Linked DNA regions of Homo sapiens: regions 2 and 3 are each linked to region 1. The links come from fine-mapping of genetic effects on plasma protein levels. A gene starts in region 1. Each other region holds a variant in brackets. All regions are shown on one strand. Distances are from middle to middle. Region 1 holds the start of MSR1 (macrophage scavenger receptor 1). Region 2 overlaps MSR1 (macrophage scavenger receptor 1). Region 3 overlaps MSR1 (macrophage scavenger receptor 1).

The links. PIP is the posterior inclusion probability: the model's chance that the variant is causal. The UK Biobank Pharma Proteomics Project read protein levels with antibody pairs (Olink). The fine-mapping took linkage between variants from a reference panel, not from the people measured, so its PIPs are less certain.
Region 2: its variant is fine-mapped to the plasma level of the MSR1 protein (UK Biobank, PIP above 0.99). The variant lies in the coding sequence of MSR1. If it changes the protein, the assay may bind it differently, which can mimic a change of level.
Region 3: its variant is fine-mapped to the plasma level of the MSR1 protein (UK Biobank, PIP above 0.99). The variant lies in the coding sequence of MSR1. If it changes the protein, the assay may bind it differently, which can mimic a change of level.

What each region holds. Positions count from the first base shown.
Region 1 is chr8:16,189,134-16,197,329 of GRCh38, forward strand. It overlaps MSR1 (macrophage scavenger receptor 1), which reads right to left and starts at 3,518. Exons shown (of 10, transcript NM_138715.3): 1 at 3,465-3,518.
Region 2 is chr8:16,150,638-16,158,833 of GRCh38, forward strand. It overlaps MSR1 (macrophage scavenger receptor 1), which reads right to left. Exons shown (of 10, transcript NM_138715.3): 6 at 4,427-4,507. Among named protein-coding and RNA genes, the nearest start is that of MSR1, 38 kb to the right of the region's middle. The variant G/A (reference allele first, on the strand shown) is at 4,448.
Region 3 is chr8:16,106,602-16,114,797 of GRCh38, forward strand. MSR1 (macrophage scavenger receptor 1) reads right to left here. Exons shown (of 10, transcript NM_138715.3): 10 at 1,280-3,617. The coding sequence ends at 3,484. Among named protein-coding and RNA genes, the nearest start is that of MSR1, 82 kb to the right of the region's middle. The variant T/C (reference allele first, on the strand shown) is at 3,518.

The DNA.
Region 1 (8,196 bases):
TTTACATATATTTCATATATACGTAAAACCTTATTTTACATATATTTCATATATACGTAAAACCTTATTTTATATATATTTCATATATGTAAAATCTTATTTTATATATATTTAGATATAATCTTATTTTATTTATATTTCAAATATATAAAATCTTATTTACATTTCATATATATATAAAATCTTATTTACATTTCATATATATATAAAATCTTATTTTATATATTTTTATATATATTTTATATATATAAAATCTTATTTTATATATATTTTATATATATTTTATATATATAAAATCATATTTTATATATATAAAATCTTATTTTATATATATTTTATATATTTTATATATAAAATCTTATTTTATATATATTTTTATATATAAAAAATCATATTTTATATATATTTTATATATTTTATATATATGAAATCTTATTTTATATATATTTTATATATATTTTATATATATATAAAATCTTATTTTATATATATTTTATATATATATAAAATCTTATTTTATATATATTTTATATATATATAAAATCTTATTTTATATATATTTTATATATATATAAAATCTTATTTTATATATATTTTATATATATATAAAATCTTATTTTATATATATTTTATATATATATAAAATCTTATTTATACAGCCATTTTTCTAAATAAAAAATACAGCCATTTTTCTAAAATATAATTTTTTCTTTTAAACTTTTTTTCCTTTTCCCAGGGGGCAATGCTTCACTGATATAAATAATGATGTTATAAATATTTCCTTTTTTTTTTTTTTTTTGAGATTGAGTCTTGCTTTGTCACCCAGGCTGGAGTGTAATGGTGTGATCTCAGCTGACTGAAACCTCTGCCTCCTGGGTTCACGTGATTCTCCTGCCTCAGCTTCCCGAGTAGCGGGATTATAGGCGTTTGCCACCATGCCCAGCTCATTTTTGTATTTTTCACCGCGTTCATCCAGCTGGTCTCAAACTCCTGACCTCAGGTGATCCACCCTCCTTGGCCTCCCAAAGTGCTGGGATTACAGATGTGAGCCACTGCCCCGGCCATTATTTTCATAATTTAGCTTTCTTCTTTTAAAATGTTTCTTTAGGATAATTCATCATATGTGAAACTAAAAAGTGAAAGGAAAACTATTTTGAACTTCTTGGGCTCTACTGTCTTAGTGATCTTTAAAAAGATAACATAAATTTATAAATATTCCAGACTTATATGTGAATATGGCAGTTTCAAGCAAAATTCACTACCATTGAATAATAAAGCTTATTTTAGAATCATTTAGATTTTGATAAGAGTTAAATAATACCTAAAAGTGGTTTTCATTTTTATTTTTTATTATTAATGTAAGAGAGAGATTTCACTGTAATTGTCTGTCATACATTGTTCTTCTTGGGTTATTATCTATTCATATTCACTGCTTATACATCCCCACAGGTTTCTTTTACCTAAGCATGTGAATCAGCTCTTTATGTTTAATACATATTTACCATCTGTCTTTTCATACTTGACATGCATTCGTTTTCCTAAGATTTTTCCCTATTTAGTTTTTTTATCATATTCTTTCTTTTTTCTTTCTTTCTTTTTGTTTTTGAGATGGAGTTTCGCTCTTGTTGCCCAGGCTGGAGTGCAATGGCGTGATCTTGGCTCACCACAACCTCCGCCTCCTGGGTTCATGTGATTCTCCTGCCTCAGACTCCGGAGTAACTGGGATTACAAGCATGCACCACCACGCCCGGCTAATTTTGTATTTTCAGTAGAGACAGGGTTTCTCCATGTTGGTCAGGCTGGTCTTGAACTCCCGACCTCAGGTAATCCACCTGCCTTGGCCTCCCAAAGTGCTGGGATTACAGGCGTGAGCCACCGTGCCCGGCCCATCATATTCTTAAGGCCAACTTTATCTTCAACATTTGGAATAAATAATAAGCTTGTGATCCTCCTTATTATATAAAATAATAACTTTGATTTTTGTAACAGCAGTTGAATGTGTATATAAAATGAAAATTAAATTAAGATTATTTGTGAAACTAACAGCTTTATGCTTAAGGAACCCGTCTGTAAGACAGATTTTAGTAAGAAATGGAAATATTTATATTGTGCCTGATGTCACTGATATTCATCCTTGGTAGCAAAGAAGAAAGAGCATCAACTTTTGAATCTGAAATCTAGATTTGAGTATTGACTGTGACATCATTTAGCTGTGTGATCTTAGGCAAATATTTTAACTTATTTGAATTGAACTTTCTTTAGATATGTAAAATATGATCACAATATAAATTTAAAGAATTATTGCGAGAATTAAAAATAATTTTTGTAAATTGCCTGGTACACAGAAAACCATCAATATATGAATCCCTGTTATTTTAAAATATCACTTTTTTTTTAAATATGAGCTTTTCTTATTTTGTTCTCACGGAATCTTCATGAGGTACAAGTAGTATTTTCTCCATTTTACAGGTTAGGGAACTGAAATGTGTAAGTAACTAGTCAAGTTACTCAACTAGGGAGCAGGGGAGCTGGAATTTGAACACAGGCAGTCTACTCCCAGAAGATTAGCTCTTACCCACTGCATAAAACGGCTAATCACTGCATAAAACATCTGTAATCTCAGTTCTATGGTTTTTCTATAAGTATTTTTACCTGGTCAGTGCAAATGCCAACCTCCCATTATATGCTGTGTGAATCTTACTTAGTCTTCAAGATTAATCAGATTTCTAGCATCTCCATGAAGATTTATTTTTGATAGACTTTTTTCACATAGAAGTAATTTTGGCCTCGCCTATATTTTCATAGTAATTATCTATAGCATTTTCATACTACTTAAGGTGCTAGTAATTATCTATAGTACTTTCATACTACTTAAGGTGCTCAAATTACATTATGCCTATTTGGGGATATGTTTTAAATCATAAGATTCCGGAGCACAAAAAGAACTATATCTTATTTTTTGTATCCTTTCCCCACATCTAGTTCAATGAAGTGCATATAGTAGATACCCAGCCAATATTTGCTATATAATCAAGGGAAGATAATAAAAGGCATTAGATTAAAGCCAAAAATGTTCCATGAAAAGTTATGAAAGGAGAATAGGTGAAATATGTCAAATTATACTTTGAATAAAACCAGTATTTTAAACAAAATATGCTTAATTATATGAAAAAACCCCATTGCTGGTTCAAACTACAAAGCATTTAGTGTATTTCATATGTACTTGTGAACATATATGTTTTTCACTCATGGAAAATTTAGCAGAAATCCCTATTTTTTGATTATCGAAAAAAACCAAACCAAATTATTGCTGATACAATAAAGCATTCATCTCATCATACACACACAGACACACAAATATATATCACACACATGCATGCACACACACACACAGAGTACACACATAACAATCAATAGAAACAATTCTGGAAAAAACATTAAAATAAGCCTTTTTTTTTCTTTACCTTTCGTCCTAAAGAAAGCAGCACTGATTTATCCACTTCTCTCTCTTTACAATTGAAACCTAAAATCTTTATCTCATAGTATTTCAGCATCTGGTACATGAAGAAAGGAAATGACACATTCCTGCGTTGAAAATCTTTCTTAATGTGTTTCAATAGCACTCTCATCAATGCACAGGTTTGCAAAATCTAAATTTGTCAGATAACTCACTCTTCACCCCATTTAGGCCGCTTTAAAAAAAAAAGAGAAGTGAAAAGGAAAAGAAACAAGGGTTGTTGAAACAAGCACATAATTTACAGCAGATTGAGCTTTCCTTTTTTTTTGGAGATGGAGTCTCGCTGTCTCACCAGGGTGGAGTGCAGTGGTGTGATCTCCGCTCACTGCAACCTCTGCCTCCCAGGTTCTACAGGCGTGTGCCATCACACCCGGCTAATTTTTTGTATTTTAGTAGAGACAGGGTTTCGCCATGTTGGTCAGGATGGTCTTGATCCCCTGACCTCATGGTCCGCTCGCCTTGGCCTCCCAAAGTGCTGGGATTACAGGCGCGAGCCACCGTGCCCAGCCTGATCTTTCCTTTTTTATAAGTAATCTATGCCTTCTAAAACATACATTAATTCTCATGATCTCCTCTTTCACGTTACTATAATGTTGAGTAAAGACTCCATGTTTGGCTAGGTGTGGTGGCTCATGCCTGTAATCCCAGCACTTTGGGTGGCCGAGGTGGCTGGATCACTTGAGGTCAGGAGCTCTAGAACAGCCTGGCCAACATGGTGAAACTAGTCTCTACTAAAAATACAAAAATTGGCCAGGCATGCGCCTGTAATCCCAGCTACTCGGGAGGCTGAGGCTGAAGAATTGCTTGAACCCAGGAGGCGGAGGTTGCAGTGAGCAGAGATCGCACCACTGCACTCCAGCCTGGGCAACAGAGTGAGACTCCACCTCAAAAAAAAAAAAAAAAAAAAAGACTCCATGTTTAGAGATTCGAGTTTTTTTCTTAGATCCTTTTTCCTGTACCTTTATCCCTAGCCTCAAACACAAAACACGTGAAGAAAGAATATGATGCCTTAGTAAGAACAAGTAATAACCTAAAAGCACTCACTCCTGTTCTCTCTATAATGATAATAGCATTAATTTTTAGAGCACCAGACAAGTTGTTTATTTCCAGTAGTATAGTAGAGGGAAGGAATCTCAGGCATGGATCAGATGAAAGGGATGTTCTTTCCCTTCTGCCATCCATCAGGGTTTTATACAATTCAACTCCGTTATTTACTCACATTCAAGAAGTTCAAGTATGACTCACATGAAAACGTTCAACATTACATTAATGAGCTAAGTTTTACAACTGATATTTCTGGGAGAAGGTGTTTAGCTTATATTCCGTAGTCACTCTTTTGTGCCCAAACAGGAGAAATCATGCTTCCTACCAAAAGATGCCCCAAATTGCTGTGCCCATGGGCACCATCCTTCAGAAGACAATACGTCTGCAAGAAAGTATGCGGGAACAGCGCACGGTCTTTGAGAGATGCAAAGTAACAGTATTATTCAGTTATTCTTAAGGTAACCACTAAAAGGCTAATAGTAGTAGTAGGACAGGCATCAAAGTAAGCTGCATAATTTCTAACCAGGCAGCTTGAAGACTAGAAGTACGATCACAATTTGATCCAGCCTGGACCAGCATAAATGCTATTGGCTATTCCTCATCAAATTCTTACTGACACAGAACTGGAGACTACAAAACTCACACTCTTTCCTTTACAATTATTTGTACATGCTTCTTATTTTAAAATATAGTCCTTTTAGGTTTTTTTGTACAAAATCTGAAGTTTAAAATTTAGATATCCCTGACAATGCTACGTGATTAGAAAAGTCAGACTCTGGGAATAACAAGACACCAATCTCCCAAAATTCTATCCTAATGAGGTTTCTTTCTGTCAGTGTGCTTTATTTTCAGTATGTCTCTGTAATACTGTTTGGTGTATATCCACAGTGCTGACCACTTCCCTATGTGATGATTTCCACACTCTTCAGCCAATCTAATTTTTCATTAAAAAACTTCCCTTTTTATATGTCTAAATAGGTACTATATAATTTTATATAGTTTTATATATAATAATTATAGATTATGTAACATAATATTATCTATTAGGTCTTACTATATGTAAAAACACCTTTAGCAGGGAACCATGTTAAAAATGTTCAGTTCAAGCCAATGATTAATTGAGAACAGAGGTAATATGTAAAGGGTTGGGATTTTGCATTCATTCCTTCATTTGACTTCACAGCAACTTTGTCATATCACTTCCCTAATTGAGAAATTAATGTTTAGAGATGGTAAGTAAATTTCTCGAGATCAGAGTTATGAGTCATCAGAGCTGGTATTTAAACCCAGTCTGATTACAAAATTTGGCAAAATATAGTTTTTTCTTAAGCTGAAGTAGGTATATGTATTATTAGGGGACTATAATATCTCCATCAAAAACAGTATACAGAAAACAAGCCACAAATATGGGCAAATTCCAGATCATGTGGATAGTTACTTTGTTCATAGTTATTGTGATGGATCCCAATTACTTTATTTTTGTTGCTTATGGATATATGTGTCTAGAATGAGGTCCATGTAAGATTATGCCCAGTGACCAAACAGAGATTCATAATCAAATAGGCAAATGGCTTGAGAGAATTGATTCAAATGTCCTAGGACTCACTGTGGTACAGGTATACTGAACTCAAAAGAAGAGTTAACATTTTACACTCATTAAGAGGTATTTTTGTATGTCTAAAGTTACAGCAGGTTGTTAGTCATAATATATAGTTAATACATTATGACTTATTTATTGTATGATATATATATGATAAAGTTTCGAGATAAAATTTTTCATGTTCTTAATTCAAAGCAATAAGTAAATAGTGATATAAATACAGATTTTAATAATGCTGCAACGGACACATATTGCTGTGGGATTATAAAGCATTTACAGAATTATCAAAACATTCTTTAATAAAATTGACATTGAAAAATTGCATATTGGCAGAGCTTTTTCTTTGATAATCATAAGCAGAAAACTGTGAAGGTACCAGTAACATTTTATATAGCCTTATTAAACAGAACTTTCCTATATGAGAATTATTGAAGTCAAATACAGAAACAGACCAAGGACAGTATCAGAATTGAATAGTATCTTCCTTCTATTAAACCTATAATAATATTTTGGCTTGCCCACACAATCTTAAATTGGTGGTGTTAGTTAAAATTTTAATTTTTTTGCGAGATTTTAAAATTTAATTAACATATGCATTATATTTCAAAAACTTGGTTAAGAACTGTAGGCTTACAGTGTTTAGGTCTAAATTCGTGTTTCTCTATTTTAACATAAAATTATAATAAAATAATATATCAACACTTAATAAGGTATAGAGATCAATATATTTATTTTCTTTTGAGAAACACTGCACTATGCCATACTGTCTATTTTTAAAAGAAAGTTCATGGAAGACTTCTAGTTGCAGCTTCAACATCTAAAGAGCTTGGAAGTCATCACTCATATCTCGACACCACGAAAAAAGCTGGAGAAACTAAAAATCAATGACGTCTTGGACCCATCAGAGAACTGAGGTCTCAAGGAAACTACCAGCCTGAAACCGGGAGAGAGAGGAGATTACAGAGCATCACAGCAGACACCAGATCACCTGCAGCTGATGCCAGTGGAACCACAAACTGGCAGGAACACCTAAGCAGGAATTTGGCAAGAGGCTGAGTATGGACCAGTGTGAGCACTGGAGCCTCCTGGGGGCTGCAGTCTTCAAGGCGCCCCCTAAACACTTACAGGCTTTACTTCCAGGAATACAACTTGGTTCTCACAGTATATACCAAAAAATATCACCTGATGTCCCTGGCAGAGAGAAGGGAAATCTAATGATTTTAAAATATACGTAGAGCATTTCCTGTAACAAAGGCTTACTCCCCAGTGAAAAGAGTTTATCAGAGCGTTATCTTAGCTAGGCAGCTGAAGGGTAACTATTCAATGCTCGCTCCCTCTAGTCTTCCAGCTGCAGTTCAACTTGGCAGAGAAAAAGGAAAAAAAAAAAAAAGTTTAGAAACGCTCATGAAGGTCACAGGTCACAGTCCGGGGACAAGGGCCCACTAAAAGACTGAGATTTAATCAGAAGACTATAGAACACCTCACCCCGCCCCCACATCTCACCCCTCCGTCAACAGAGCTCCCGTATGATAACAGTGGATGACAGGTGAAAGAGATGCAAGGTTTTTTTTGAAAGGGAAGTTTGTAGGGGAACCTAAATACAGTAGAGGCAACAAAGAGACACTACAGGTAATTTTAGCTTCTGACAGCTGTATCTACAGGAAATGTTAGACGTAACCCAGCTCCTAGCTAGATTAATATACAACCTCACACTAAAAGGCAAGTAAGCATACCTAAGACCCTAAAAGTCACACTGTCCTTAGACAGTTAGGGAAGTAGAATGGATAACATATGCCCAAAATACGAATGACTAATTTCCTTGCAAGATCAGCTGTCTCCTGCAAGCAACATTTGACAATTCACCCTTTCCTCGTGATGATGTCTTAACTAAGAAGATACAAAAATGCAAGGAAATGAAAGTGAATATGAGATCACTTTTATGTGCTATTTTAAAAACATAAATGCACATTGCACTGTGTTTAGGGAACTATGGCTTCAGAATTGTAGGAAAGACCCATGTAGTTTAAATGAGTTT
Region 2 (8,196 bases), 38 kb before region 1:
CTGTAGCTGAAATAATAACTTTAAAATGCATAAGCTGAAAATTGAATTCTTAAGATTTGCCTTAGAAAAAAATGCAACTCAAGCAATGTAAAGTATCAACGAGTGTTTTATAAAATAAATTGGTGTCTTGGCTCTGAAATATATTACTTTATCTATCATGGACCTGTTCTTACATATTTCATTGTAATCCCAGGGTAAATAAACATAAACATAAACACACACACACACACACACACACACACACACACATGCGATACACAGATTTACTTATGAGTATGTACTATATACTTACACAAATCCAGGGTTTCATATGCTTAAATGAAAACTGAAAATGGCTATTTTTTTTACCCAATATTACTATGGTGATCATAACAACTGTATATAAAAGAAAATGTTATATTCCAGTGAAATAAAATATTTTATCCTAGAGTTCAGTAGTTCTTGATAAACTATTGTAACAGTTTAGGCATCTTATTTTGTCATTATCAATTCAGAGAGAACTCGTTCACCCAGTCTCACTTGATCCCATGGCAGAGAATGCCATGTTGCCTGCTTTAGACAGGAGCATCTTGGGGCCATAAGAGCATCAGAGAAGCCCCTCCAATGCTGACTTCTCAAGTACCTCACAGTGATGCTCAGAACACAGCTGTTCAACTAAAAATCAAGGATGTTCAACTACAAATCAAGTACATTTTCAATGAATGAACAAATAACTCTGTAAATGAAGCATATGAGATACTTTCATAGAAATCAGGCAGTCATAGACCTCTGTTCTTGGAGATGGTTAAGCAGACTCTATATGGCCTATGGAGTTATGTGACTTGTTTGTTTAATGATGGTTCAAAATGTAGTCCCCAAAATGTAAGCACAGCTGTTGAACTTTATTCCATAAGATCAGATACCCTGAGGCTTTCAGGAGGCAATTAACTAATTTTCTACAATAATCTGTGGCAATGGGAAAGGGTCTGGCACCTGCTTCTAACTCATGGACAATATAAGTACAGTTACATGGAATCTCAGCCATGGGATGTTCAAAGAGACGTTAGACATCATCAAGTCAGAATCCATCATTTTAGAGACAGTTCCATGAGACCAGAGTGATCAAATCACTTACATAAAGCTGGTCTGATAATTATTCACATGTCCTAGGTGTCCTGCTCCATTCAGGCTCCTTCCTGCAAAGTAGCAGACTGGTTAAGGGCATGGACTCTGCACTCATGCCCATTGGGGTTCAAATACCAGCTTTGCCACTTACCAGTTGCTGATTGACCTCAAGCAAGTCATTTAACTTTACTGTGCATTGCACCTGTAAAATGGGTGTATTATTTGTTTCTGCATCATCAGGCTGATGTGATAGTTAAAAGAGCTCATACACGTAAAACACTTAGAAAAGTGCCTGGCATGTAATGACTACTTTGTAAATGTTAGCTTTTCTTGTTCTCCTCCCCCTCTTCCTCATCCTCCTCCTCAGTAATACAATCATTATTTTTACCAGCCTGTTGTAAAGGCTTCTAAATTTAGTTTTATTAAATGATACGTACACAGTTAGCAGTGACATTTTTTGATTCACTGGCACAATTTGTTACTTCCAGAAAAAACCCACTTTCAATACTCAGGTGTAGAGCGACAGCCTGCAGCCAGGCAACATTCCTTACTCAGGTGTATATTTAAGGATCCTGTCCTTGCTGAAGCTTTAGGGAGGGGCCTTCTTGGGGCCATAGCCTATGGGAAGGGGCGGGCCAGGGTAAAGATATACGTGGATATAAACATTAATAAAATATGGTTCCTCTCTTCCAATATCTATGGGTAAGATGAGCTTTATTTTCTCTTCTGGAAGCACGATTCCTATGGTGGAAAATTCAGACTACGTAAGGAAGTAAATAGTACTGGTTGATGATGAAAAGTTTGCAGCCAGAGAAGCCTTCAGTTCTCTCGAGGGCATCTCATGTAGGTAGCCCCACCCATGCCTACAGGTCAAACTACCTTGTTATTGATCACATTGGGCATAAACAGCTTCTTAGATGGCCCACACAAAGTTTCCTTTAGAAAAGAAAGTTGCTTCTCCTTCAAAACATTGTTGTCATGGGTAAAATCAGCCCCTTAAAAGAAACTCACATGAGATAAAAAATCCTTGATCATGACATTTGCCTCCCTTATATTACTACTTATCATCCTGGAAGCGCTGTGAATTCAGAGATTCTGTATCTGTTTACACATACTCTATAGGGTATTGTAGAACACCAGGCCTGGAGAAAGTGCTCAGCACATAGTTTTTGAGTGAAAAGTGATAGGTCATTCTCCCTAGCATGCTTTCAAGGAAATAGCCCTCTAAAATAAATTTGTTATTATTTGGGGAATAAAGCATATTTAAACATAATATCCACCCTAGTATATGAATAATAATTCTACTATATTTAATGTATTAGTTATTTGAGGCTACTAGGACAACCACTTAGGTTTTGCAGATATTCGCATCATGATTGTGAGTCTAGGTGAGTTTGACTTGGTCAAGCTGAGTTTAGTAGGCTCAAATGGATGTAGAGATGGGGAAGCAATAAACCTGCTCAGATTAGAAAGCAGAATTAGTATGATTGTCCATCATATACTCTTTGCTTCCTGATTTCGGCATCAAATATAAGGCAATTAGACAATCTGGTGGAGAAACGAACAGAATGCAGCAAGACATCCAGAAATAATTCATTAGGAAAGATGCCTGGTATTTTGAATACTTTTCTTGTAGTGCACCAAACAAAATGGTAACCTGATAACCTAGAAGAGTCATTGATTACCCCAGGAACTCGACCTGTCTTTTATGAGGAACTGGGTAATGCCTATTTGTGTAAATGAGCAGTACCAAAAGCAACAAATTATGACATCACTTTTTACCCTGTAAATTTAAACCATGACAAATCGTTAATTTACAATAAAAAAAAAACAAAATCAAAGATTCTTTGCAATGGTGTCTATTTATAACATTAACACAAGCTGAAATTTATAAATCCTTCTATTTCATACATTCACAGTTCAGAAACAGCTGCAGAAGATTCTCCCAAGATGAAGCACTGTATGGCAAGATGTAGCCCAGACTGAATTTTTATGGTTGAGTTATAAAGCTCTGACAATTGCAGCCTGTATGGAGGGGGTGATAGACCCTTGACAATGGTAGTTCTGGCAGCAGATTTAATACTGGTTATTTCCTCTGCTTATGACATTAATGCAGCATTGTTAATATCTGATTAGCATTAGTCAAGTAGAAAGACTTTCCTGAATAAAAATTCTTTCCTGGCAAGGCATTCAAAAGCACATCAATACTAATACCACCTGACTTGGCATATTATATATATGGGTAGGATTGCTATTTTATATATATAAAACATGTGTACCTGGATGTATATCATCTATCTTCACATATAATATGCCATATATATTTATATACATATATATACATATATGTGCTTAGGCAGGTATCAAGTTCATGCTTCTCATTTTCAAAAATTTTTCTGATGTGACCAGGGCTAGTCAATACACTGATCAGAAAGAAGAACCTTTTATATAATCAAAAGACAGAAAAATAAGATGAAGTACATGGTATTTAGACATGTTTTGGTAACACAAACCATTCTACTTATAATTAGACCTTGCAGTATACTTCCTACCATCAAACGGCATGCAGGATATTTGATTTCAAGCCAAGGCTAACATGACAATCATGTTATTATCTTTTTTATTTTTTCAAGCAAAGAAAGTTCATGTTCTCTCTTCTGTGTCTTCTTTCAAAATATTTCTTTCAAGATTACAACTTAGAGGAAAATAATTTGAAACAGTTTTGCTCTTAGTAAAGCACAGAGAGTGACTGTCAGCAAGGTAAGTGTCATCCATATTTTAGCCAATATTTACATTCAGATTTCATTAGTTTAAACAGATATATTCCAAATACTATATAAGAAATATAGTCCAATTTGCTTGTGATTCATAACTCACTACTAGTGTGAGTTTTTATGTCTTAAAAATGAGATAGCTTGCAAATGTGAAGATGATTTATTCAACGCAAAGATAATTGTTGTACTCCCCTTCACATATGATCTACGGTTAGGTCTGCCTTATACTGTTTGCTGTCTATTATATACATGTCACTATCTAGACTTACAAACAATTCCATTTGGTTACTCTGGTTAAAGCATTTATTTTCTTCAACAGTCATGAGTAATGCTTATCATTCAGTGTATTATGTGATTAGGCTACTAGAACATTTACTAATCCCCCAAAACACACACACATATACACACATGTGCGTGCATACACACACACACACACATACACATCCTCTGCAGGATATAAATAAAATAGCAATCCTCCCCTACACATGTACCTGGATGTATATCATCTATCTTCACAGTATATGATTAAATAGCTAAAATTACCATACCTATTGGACCTGGAAATCCTC[G/A]TGGACCACTTTCTCCAGTGGGACCTCGATCTCCTTTTTCACCCGGGGGTCCAGGAGGACCTTTAAAAAAATTACAGTTACTGATCATAGTTGTAAAGCATAGGAAAAATGGGTTAGTCATCTGTCAAGGTACTTATATAAGGAAATCCAAAGTCTTCTATTTGTTGTGCAATAATATAGAATGTATAATACTGAACTTCATGAATGGAGGAGTATTCTGCTATTCAGGAATATAATGCCCTATACTAATGAGGATGACATTGCCTCAAAGTAAACAACCTAACAGTATATTAAATGTGAGTGTGCCTAACACTTTTCTATGTTCTGAGAACCTGGGGGCAGAGAAAAGACAGCAGGCTGGCACAAAGTCACATTAGTGTTGTACGCATCCTAGGCAGTTAGACATAGAGTTAGATATAATACAGAATTAGCTACTATACGGAAAATCTATAAGTAAGAACTTAAAAGACATTTGTGATACCCTCAAGGGAAAGGAAAATTCACACATGGTAGACAACCAGAAAGCACTTTGTTGGAACTGACCATAAACTCAGATATTTGTCAGTGAACTGTAGATCGGCGTGAATGGTGATGGTTGAAGTCTTCATTGAGAAAGTAGGATATGAGGGGTACTTTCAAGAATGAAGGGAAGGGGAAGGAAGACAATTCCTAGGGATTGAGAAAGGCATGAGGAAAGGCAGGAAGGTGAAAATGAGTAGAGGAATTCTTTTTTCAAGTAAAATATTAAGTAGAATTTCTAGGTTGCTATAAATACTGTAAACAAAATGGAGACATTGCAAGGAAAACTTTGGTCTCATCATTTTTTTTCAGGTGGCTCTCCTGAGAGCTGTAACTAAACAACCCTGATTTAGCCATTTGTATTTTCTGTGTCCAGCAAAACAGATACCTGCTCATCATGCCTTTAAAATGATTATACCTAGCATGTCTTTAGAACTCAAAGGTAATCCTACCTAAACACCATGTTCCATATGGAGTACAGAGGACAAATAATCTCTTCTTTATCTAAAGAAGAGCACTTAGTTTCCTTTTCAACACCAGAAGAAAGAAACAGAAAGAAACATTATTCCATAGATTCACCACAGAATAAGGAAATAGTGATATTTTAAAGGAAGCATTTTCAATTGCTAGTTTGGACACATACATAGTCCAAGGAAAACAAATATATACAGCATCCCTGGTTAGAATGCACTTGTTTACAAATTTTAATCAGGTGGGAGACATAATACCCGAAGAAATCTAAGAGGGGGAACCACATAAATAAATAAAGATTATCTCATGAATAAGTATATTTTGTACATTTTGTTGTTGCTTATTTTGACATCCTTGACTCTACTTCTGTCTATTCCTCTGGTATGTCCCATTTTCAAGGTACAATTTGGGTTTTAGAGGCCCAAGATATCATTATTACTCTTCTCAATAGAATGTCCCTTTCTCCTCATATGCAACATTGGACACACATTTAATTGTATTTTTATTATAAAAGCAACTCTACTTATAGGAAACATAAAAGCCTAGAAAAAGCGTGAGGAAGAATATAATTCGTAGTTGTGTTATTTTAACTAAAGATCTTTACCATTTCTTTCCTAAGTGTGTACGTGTATTTTTTTTTTCCACATAATCGTCATGCAAACAACATGTTACAGGGCTTTTAGAAATTAACTGGTGTATTATATTCTAAGGTATAGCTTAATTGCTGCGAGACATATATTTAAATGCTGCACAAGAAATGTAAGATTTCTGTATCAAAGGGAATCTCTATGTGCCCCCTATTCCCTGCAGAAGAATGTAGTACTTCCCAAGAAAATGGAGTTATGGTAACTTCCATAACCATGAACGCAGCTGCATCCATTCAACACTACATAGCAATGAATCCCAGGGGAGGGGGGCAAGCAGGACAGACACTCAATTTATGCCTGAATTTTGTTGAGCTAATTGAAGGGAAGCACAGGGATAGTAATCAAGGATGGTATTTTGAAAAAAGTGCGCAAGCAAAGATTTCAGTTTAGTAACTCAGGATCCAAAGCAAGACGCAGACATTCCAGGAAAAACTAGAACATGAAACAAGAAGAAACAAGGGACACAGAGAATAGATCTAGACTCTTAGCCTCTGAGATGGACTTCTCACCATTTCTTTGGTAAGTAAGAGATGGAAGGAACTCTCCTAATTACTAACTATCCTTTCAATTATATTACATGTAATTATGGGAACTGTATACTTAATTTTGGAGTATTAGTTCAATCACAGCGAATAGATCAGTATTATTTTACAAAATTTGGAGTTAAAGATCCCTCTCTGTATTTTTATATAAAAATACTGATACCTGGTATTCGAATCCTACAATAAGAAAAACAGGTAAAGATTTTTGTTAGAGTTCTAACTAGGCATGTTGAATGTACCTTTTTATTGTCATTCTATTCTTCATGTAACATTAATCTCACATTATGTTTCATTTTTGTACATTGTTATAGATCTTTTACTGTTTCTAACAAAATGTTGGAAGGATCTCAATAAATGTTTTAAGTGTCTTTTAGATTCATTGGGGGAATAAAATAACAAATTATATACCACTTTACTCTTAGTTTCTGATGCAGAACTTTTAAGAACACTATCCACTACCTTGCCACCTTCCAAAACTAGCCTCCTCTCCATTCCCATTGTAGCTCACGTCTTCACCATCACACAGCTGGACTATTGCTAGAGATTTTTAATCTAGTCTGAATGTGTTTTATCTGTTTCACCTCCTAGTTCCCTCAGTGTTGGCTTTCTTCTTCTTTTTGATAAGAATCCGTTTTGCAATGTCTCTATCAAATTAAGGAAATGCAGTAACCTATTCTGTCATATTATGGAAAAAAGAATAAAGACTTAGAGTCTCTTGTAGTCACCTTTTGTTCGTAGTTTCCATTTAGTCTTTTCAAAATTTTGTTCCATACTGACATAATAACTGCCTCGTTGCATCAATAAATGGACAAAATGCTACCTGTCAGCTCCCTTGCTGATACATGTCAAAAAAAATGGGTTAATATTGGCCAAAATATATGATTTATTCTAGTTCAAGAAGCCATAGAATTTACATTATTTTTCATCTTTAATATTTCCAATTACAGTTACAGGAATAATTCATAAATACTATCACAATAATCTGCCATGAAGAATTACCTTTATACAACACATGCACAAAATCTACTATGTAGCTTCCTCCATGATTACTTCTTAAAAAGGAAAAGTAATATTTCTATATAACCACAAAAAAGTACTGATATATAATATTTGATAATCATCAATATCATAGAACAAAATTACACAATTTACTAGAAAAACAAACCCAGGTGTATCATATCATTTAAAATCCTCAGACGATAACATAGCACTAATAATATCTGACTAAGTTTCCAGAGCGATGCTTCTCTAGTTTTTATTCATTATGAGCATTAATCTTCTACTCCGTTTTCAATCTTGTCTCATATTCAGATCATCATAAAAATCTGCCACATCTTCTAGTCTATTGCTGCCTAAACCTGCTTCTTTTTTTTTTCTCTAGTTTTCATGCTCATTGATTTAGATATGTTTAATCTGGAAGACACTTTAAACATTGTTTAACTAAACATATTTATAGAGGGTCAGAGAGTGAGTTGCTCAAGGTCTTAAAGCTAGTTGGGTTAAATCAGAACTAGAAGAATTTCATTTCTTTCCTGATCCTATGCTACCATGTTCTAAATTTAATTGACTT
Region 3 (8,196 bases), 83 kb before region 1:
GAAGATTGGTGTGGTTAAAGAAAAACATTTTAAAATGTATTACCTACCATTCAATAAAGAAAAAGTGCAAAGAAAATGCATAGTTGAAAAAAATCAGGCTATATTATGGTTTTATGTGTGATTAAAAGCCAAAACCACATCTAGTGCCAAACACATGTTCCTAAAATTCCTATATACTGTCTCAATGAATTAAAAAAATCTCAACGTAATCATCTCCTAATTGTGCTTTTCTGAGGGAACATTGTTAATTGTCTACCTGACAAACATTGACTTTTTCCTCCTCTCTGCCATAATCTTGATTTTATTTAGTTAACATGAGATCTTGAGCTTCACCAGCCTTGAGCTTCTCCAACTCCGGAGAGTAAATAATGCTTACCATTGTAACCCAGTGATGGTAAATTTGTATCTCTTGAGTGTGATTGCTTTGGACATACATATCACTGCCATACTGATCAAACAAATGACTGAGGGTAGAAATATTTCATTTTACCCTTCATAGCAAATATTATTACAGTCAACCCTTAAACAATATGTGTTTGAACTGTGCACTGTTCCACTTATACATGGATCTTCCACCTCTACGATTCCTGAGACAGCAAATCCAACTCCCCCTCTTTCTCCTTCTCAGACTACTCAATATGAAAACAACAATGAAGGATGAAGACATTTATGATGGTTCACTTCCACTTGATTAATAGTAAATATATTTCTCTTCCTTATGATTTAATTAAAGTTTTCTTTCCTCTAGTTTATTTTTTTGTAAGAATACAGTACATCATGCATATAAAATGTGTTAGTTGACATTATTAGTAATACAAAAATGGTTAATTGACTATTTATGTTATTGGTAAGGATTCTGGTCACCAGTAGGCTCTCAGTGGCTAAGTTTTGGGGGAGTCAAAAGTTATATGTGGATTTTTCACTGTGAAGGGATCAGTGCTCCCAACCTCTGCATTGTTCAAGGGTCAACTGTATATTATTTGTAATAGGCACATTACAAATTAATGTAATGCTTTACTTAAGTACAAACTACTATGGTCTATACGTTTTGAAAAAATGGAAAGTTTTGATTTGAAACTATTTAGATAATTTAGGTGGAATGTGTTTGGCCCTTAGATATTAATGGTTATTCTTCATTTTCTACATCCCTTTGGTCTTTCTTTTTTCTTCTTCTTTTATTTATATATACATTTTGCATTTAACGTGATGCTGGATGGCTCAACAAGTAGAATACATTCATTCTGGTCAGCTGAGCTATTTTTTCAAAAAAACCAAATCGCAAATTTCTGTTTTTTTTAATGGAACAAATGCAATTCAACATTCCAAAGTAAATTAAGTCCTCAATTTGTATTGGTGCTATTAGGTTCTTTTCTTGACTGGACTGAACTTAGTAGATTCTCTCAAATACAAAAAGGATTTTTAGATTACTTATTAAAGATATATCTATGCATAAGTGGTAAATCAGCATGCATATACCATACAGCAATATAGTATTAACAACCCATAGGCACTGATCTCAGACATCCCAAGTGCCTATGGGTTGTTAATAGTACTATTAACAGTGTCATAGTACTAGTACTAGTAATAGTACTAGTAATAGCAATAGTACTAGTACTAGCAATAGTACTATTATTATTTTAAAGGTAAATTTTATTTTAAAATAAAAATAGTAATAGTAATAGTACTATTATTAGTGTTAATAATACTAATAGTTAATACTAACAGTTAACACTAATAGTTAATACTATTGACAACCCATAGGCACTGATTTCAGACATCCCATGCATACCACTTACGCATAAGTAGTAAATCAGCATACATATACCATACAGCAATACAGTATTAACAACCCAGAGGCACTGATCTCAGACATCCCAAACAGGCTGATAATGCAAATGATTCTTTCAGAAACCATTGTATTTACCTTTTGAAGAAAATACCTAGATAGTGGAACTGAACACAAAGAATTATTAACTAGCTGAAATTACAGCCAGGGTTTGAGACAGAAAGTGTACATTCAGAATTCATTCTCTTAACCACAAAATTATGCTGCCAGAGAAAATCAGCAATGTTAAACAAGTAGAAGAATGTTACATGATAAAAATGCATTTTCAGTAGGCTGTTTACAGTAATTCCAATTCCAAGGTAAGGTTTTGCCTTTTTAAGTTGGACGGCTGTGAGTCTACCACTTGGTTATTATGTGTGGTGAGACTTCAGAATATGAAAAAATGCTTAAGCTTATGCTTTCATTTGCCACTATTAAAGAAAGAACAGTAGAGTAATTCCATAATAGTACTAGTTTACAATTACTTTTTTTGTGAATTAGTCATAGGAAACTTCAGAATTCTGTTATTTTCAGGGCTGAGGTTGAATTCATTTGCGCTTTAATATCAACTGCTGGTCTTTCTGCAGGCAGTCACTTTCAGGGTAGAATTACTGGGTTTCAGGGTAGCTTTTCACACTCTACACTATGGCCCTGGGGATGGGTTGACTACCAACAAAAGGTTGCTAAACTACTTTTTTGGGGCATGCTCAGAGTTATTGTCCCTTTAGGACTAAAGACGCACCCCCCACCCCCCCCCCCGCCCTTTGGTTGTAAATGTTGACTGACTTCATAAAAGACTCCAAACAGTTGAAACCACTCTTCCTTCTGCACTGAAGATGTTTGCATTGTTTGTTAAAATGGATTAATCAGATTTAAATTTTAAACACCATGTCCTAGAATTGTAACAAGCTAATTATTCCATTTAAAGTGCATAACAAACTAAACTTCCTGTTAAGTGGCATTTTTGATCCACCAATTATCTGGACAAATATACTGATGGTCAGTTTTCTCATATGTCCTGCTTTCAATTTACTTCATGATTCAATTAAACAGTTGTCAGTACATGACAAGAAAAATAAGCTCCCTGGTCCATAGTGGCCAAGACATATCATTAACATTGATATCTAATACACAAGTTATTGCACATTGAGATATCTTAATAGTTGGATAACATTCTTATTTTAAAACAATATGTGTGGATTGGAGATTTTGCAATCTAGGCACAAAAGATATCTTCTGATCCCTTCCGTTATTCAGAAAGTAATTAAAATCAACTAAATAGATTACAAAGACAAGAAGAGCAAAAAATTGTAATCTCCTGGTGAACATATTATGAATTGGAGCCAATTACTGGTATGCATTTCTATTACCCTTGGCCTTTGTAATCTGGAAGCTATAAACTTCAAAATGTTCAATTCAGCATATAAGTCATTATATTAGAAAATTCCATTTAAAAACCTATAGAAGTTAAAATGATTTAAATATAGACATAAAATAGTAAGCATGAAGGTGTTCAATATATTAATCCTGTAATCTAAAATATTATTTGGGCAATATTCTTAATCTCTTAAATATTGATTAAATGGATTTTACAGGAACAAGGTAATAAAATCATTTTTGAGCAGCGATTTCATAGTTGTGAATGAAAATATGATGCATTATAAAGTGCAAGTGACTCCAGCATCTTCAGAA[T/C]GTGAACAGGCTCTTGTCCCCCATTGCCGAATTTTACATTCTTCAATAGATGATTCTCTCCCAAAACAAAACACTTCATTCAGCCATATTGGACCAGTACCTGCAATAATGAGGTATAACTGCATTAGTAAGTTTAGAGTTTAGTGTTTCTCTTTGAGTGGGGCAAAGCCATTAATTCCTTCACTAATTAAACAAAAAAGTGTTGATTATTTTCTGTATGCAAGTTCTGTGCTCTCTAGTAGGAATCAAAAATTAATCTCCTGCTTCAGAACACTTTATACTCTGTTAACATGTAAACTACTAAAATGCAAAGTAAGAAGAGCTCTAACAAAGTTACCTACACAGTTCTATAAAAGTAGAGATTAAGAATGTTTTTTTAAGGATTTGACAAATTAGTTTTATTATTAATCTAAAAATAAAGAAGAAAGTTTGAGCCTTAATAATCATGGGTACATGTAATAACCTGATGATCCAAGCGTATCTGTATGTCAAAGGGTCTTGGGGTATATTTGCACATAAAATAAACCGGAAAAAGGAAAACTTAATATCAGCATCTTCCTCCTTTTGTTATCTTCCCGTGTATTTCAATTTATGTGTGCCTGGTTTATCAAATACATTATCTGTTTTTAATTAAAGTAGAACTAATCTAATCAGCAAAGGGCCTACACACCATCCTGTAAGGAAATCATGGATTAAGAATGCTACTGATTGCAAACACAAACAAACAGCAAGAAAATGACAAAGCAAAGGTTTTCCTGAGCTGATCAATTGTAAGAGTGTTAACAGTAAGTTGGAGAGCCCAAGTATTTTTTGAGGTGTTTATAACAGTATTGAGGCTTTTTTACTTGAAATTTTAAGGCAGAAGAAGGAAAAGAAAAAAGGAATATGATCTCAAAATCAGAAACCTTGCCAGGGACACTTTTTAGTTCCCAAATTATCTTACTAGGCATGGCATGTTTCCTATTGTGTTTGTGATTGTATGTGTGAGCATGTTTGTATGTGTATACGTATTTGTATATCTGTGTTTCCTTATAAGTATATAAAGTCTATAAAAACTTTTTGAAAGCCTCAAAGGGCTACTTAAAAATACAGGCAAATAAAAACAATTGCACAAATAGTAAGACTATTCCCATGTTAATACAGGAGGAAGCCGAAGTACGAGACATTTATAAATTATATCTATTATATTTATTGTCATTTATAAATTGTATAAACAAACAGAAATTAAACTTTTGGTGAAAGCCATGGCTCTGTCATAATTTGGAGAGTGCGAGAATGGCTCCATGAATTGTGAACCCGGGCTACTGTGATGCTTTCGAATTGTATTTTGTAGGTCTACTCAGTGAATTTAGATTTCAGCAGTGCAGAATTTGTACAATCCAGGAAAAGGAAACTGAGAGTGGGAATTCTCCCAATGTCTACAGCACCAGCAAGGCCATCCCAACATGAATAGCAAAGGAAAGAAATTATTTAGTTGACTAATGTGCTGACATGTAAGCACATGTTTTTAGAAATTGCAGTAAGGGAATTCACGAATGTTAGAATACCAAGGTTGTGGTCCTGATAATGAAAATTTAAGTCCAGTCTTTTAAGAATTTCTTATGTGGCAGGAAACACTTATACATGTGATGTATTATTCCATGCAATCCTCAAATAACTTTCAAAAACTGAATGCCATTATTGTGTCATTTTACTGTTGAGGAAACTGAAAATCAGCAAGGATAAGGAACTGTACGTGCTCAAAGTCGCACAGGATTCTCACCCTGTATCCACCCTGAGCCACTGCCTTAAATCAATGACTTACTGCAACCTCCTTCATTATTAGACTTACTTATTTAGCAAATCTCCTTTGGTGCCTACACGAGTGAACAAGACCAAACTCCATACTCTTGTGGACTGACTTCCTGGGAGGGCTTATGTTCTAGGTAGATGAAGCAACTGAGATCACATATACAATCATGCCAGAGCAAATACTGGCATCTAGAGCCTCTGATTCTTATTCTGGTTATTTTTCCTCTGAGGACACATGGATGTGACAAATGTATTGTGGAATTTGGTATCTCTGTCTTTTGCTATGTGGAACAGTTTCAGACACAGTGAAAATTTTTTAAGTGCTTGTGTATAAGGTAATATGCTAGGTCTTTTCACATACATTTCTAAATTTACTTTTTATAATAACCTTGTTAAATAATGATAATTATCTCCATTTCATAGATACATAAACTGAGACTGAGAAAGGGTGTATGACTTTCTCAAATTTACAAAGAATAGATCCAGGCAACAGAACATGATGACACTTAAAGCTTAGTGATATTCATGGGTTACATAGATGTCTAGATAGAATTATAGAAGTAATTTCCAAAGATTTGTTGTTTTATTTTTATATTAATATATTCAAGACTATTGAGCCCAGGGGAAAAATTTATTTAATACACATTTTCCGTCTCATTCCAAATTGTTTTCTGCATTAAAAAGTTAATGCAGATAGTATAAAATTCATAAAATTTTATCCTTGTGTAAACCAATGAGATAAAAAACAAATTTGTTTTTATTTCTTTAGATAATAACTGTTATTCAAGGATCTTCGTTGTTGGGGCTGTCACTGTTATTATTTTTTTTGTGCCTCTGAACTATTCTTTCTATTCGGTGGAAAGCTATACAAAAATTACGTGTGTTTCTTAGATATGTTTTTAATCTCTAATCCTCTTCCTCTCTTTCTCTCTCTCTCATCTTTCCACCTATATACCTAGCCATATATATATCTATGATTTCCTTTATAATTTGAGGGTTGTAGGGATTGATATTGATTATATATTTTTTTTAAGTTTTTTTTTTTTTTTTTTTTTGAGACAGAGACTCACTCCCTCTATCGCCCAGGCTGGAGTGCAATGGCGTGATCTCGGCTCACTGCACTTCCGCTTCCTGGGTTCAAATGATTCTCCTGCCTCAGCCTCCTGAGTAGGTGGGATTACAGGTGTGCACCACCACGCCCAGTTAATTTTTGTATTTTTAGTAGAGACGGGGTTTCACCATGTTGGCCAGAATGGTCTCGATCTCTTCACCTTGTGATCCACCCACCTCAGCCTCCCAAAGTGCTGCGATTACAGGGGTGAGCCACTGTGCCTGACCTCCTCTTCACCTCTTTTTAAAAAATGAAAGATACTGATATTTCTTTGGGGGATTTGGGTATCTTTAATCTTACCAGCATTTCCATGAAAAATAAAAGGTAATCAGTTTCATACATCATCCAGATATATTATAAAATGATGAGATTTGAGATCAGCTGCTGAATAGATAAATGGGAGAGCAAATATCATTAATAGTTAAAAGTGCCTGAATGTGTATTTTCATTATTTCTAGTCATGACTGAGTGACATAAATTTGTATGACTTTTAAGCCTAGTTGGGAAGTGTTTTGTGAACAGTGTCTCCATTGAGAAAAACAATGTAAATTAAAGTTGAAAACACCTTGGGAATCAAAGTAGAGAAGAATGGGTCAATATAGCCTATAGTTTGGATTGTAGTTTTGTGCTTATAGAGAAACCACTCATTTTTCCTCAATTTTATGATATGCAGAATAAAGGAGTAAGGCTAACATAGCTTTAAGACTTTGTCTACCTTTAATATTTCATGATACTAAGATTCTGAAGAAGCAAGCTCTTTAGAAATGAAGATCTTAAGTATAAAGGACTTGGAAGGATGTTCCATCTGGTGGAGAAAGCATGGTATGAGAGAAAGGTTAAGGCATGAATCTTGACCCTTCTTCCCACTCCCACCCACCCCCAACCACCCCCAACCACCATAATGACTACGTAAATTTGTACAACTTTGATGACCTCTGCTAGCCCTACTTATTTTCTCTATGAAAAAAATATGCTATTTTTCTGTGATTACCCAGCTGTATGGACCAGCCCTATACTACTTTCCATAATATTTAACATTCAAATGTTTACATTTTAAAACATTCAACATGCAAGGAGCAGTATGTAAAAATTTGACTTGTGACCCTTTGATATATTTATTTATCTTTGAGATTATATTTACTCCCATTCATTAAGGGATAGTTCAGAGGTATAGAGGTGCATTTTTTGATTGCCTTCTGTTTACCCTTACATTTTTTTTTTGAAAATTTCACATAGAAAATTGATTATGGTATGTAAAAGTGGTAATAAAAAAGCAAAGAAAAGACAGCTAAGAATAACTTTTAAATGGCATTTATGTTTATATATTACTTTTGTTTCTCTTTTCAGGTTTGGAGTTTCAGCACTATAAACTCAGGAGAAGAAGCAATAGTTACTCCAGATCTTACTTCCCTCATCAGCATCCATACAGGCTCAGATATACCTGGAACAAATTCTTGGAGGTACCACTGTTGTATGATAAAACTCATCCAAGTTTGCTGCAGGGAGACCACAGGCACAATAGCTGGGAAAGCCTGGATACGGGGCAAAAAGTGACTCACTCTCCTTTCCCTGCCCTGTGCATTGATAAACAGTAGATGCCCCTCAGTGCTTCCTTAATTAAACTTGTTTTGTCTAGTCAGAAAAAAAGGTGCATCCAAATGAGAGAACCTATTTAAAGGAGCATGCTTGAAACTTTATTCCTATAAGTCATTTTACCTGCAGCTGCAAAACTAATTGTTCTTAAAACTAAGGATTCTATCTGCTAAGCCAGGTTTGC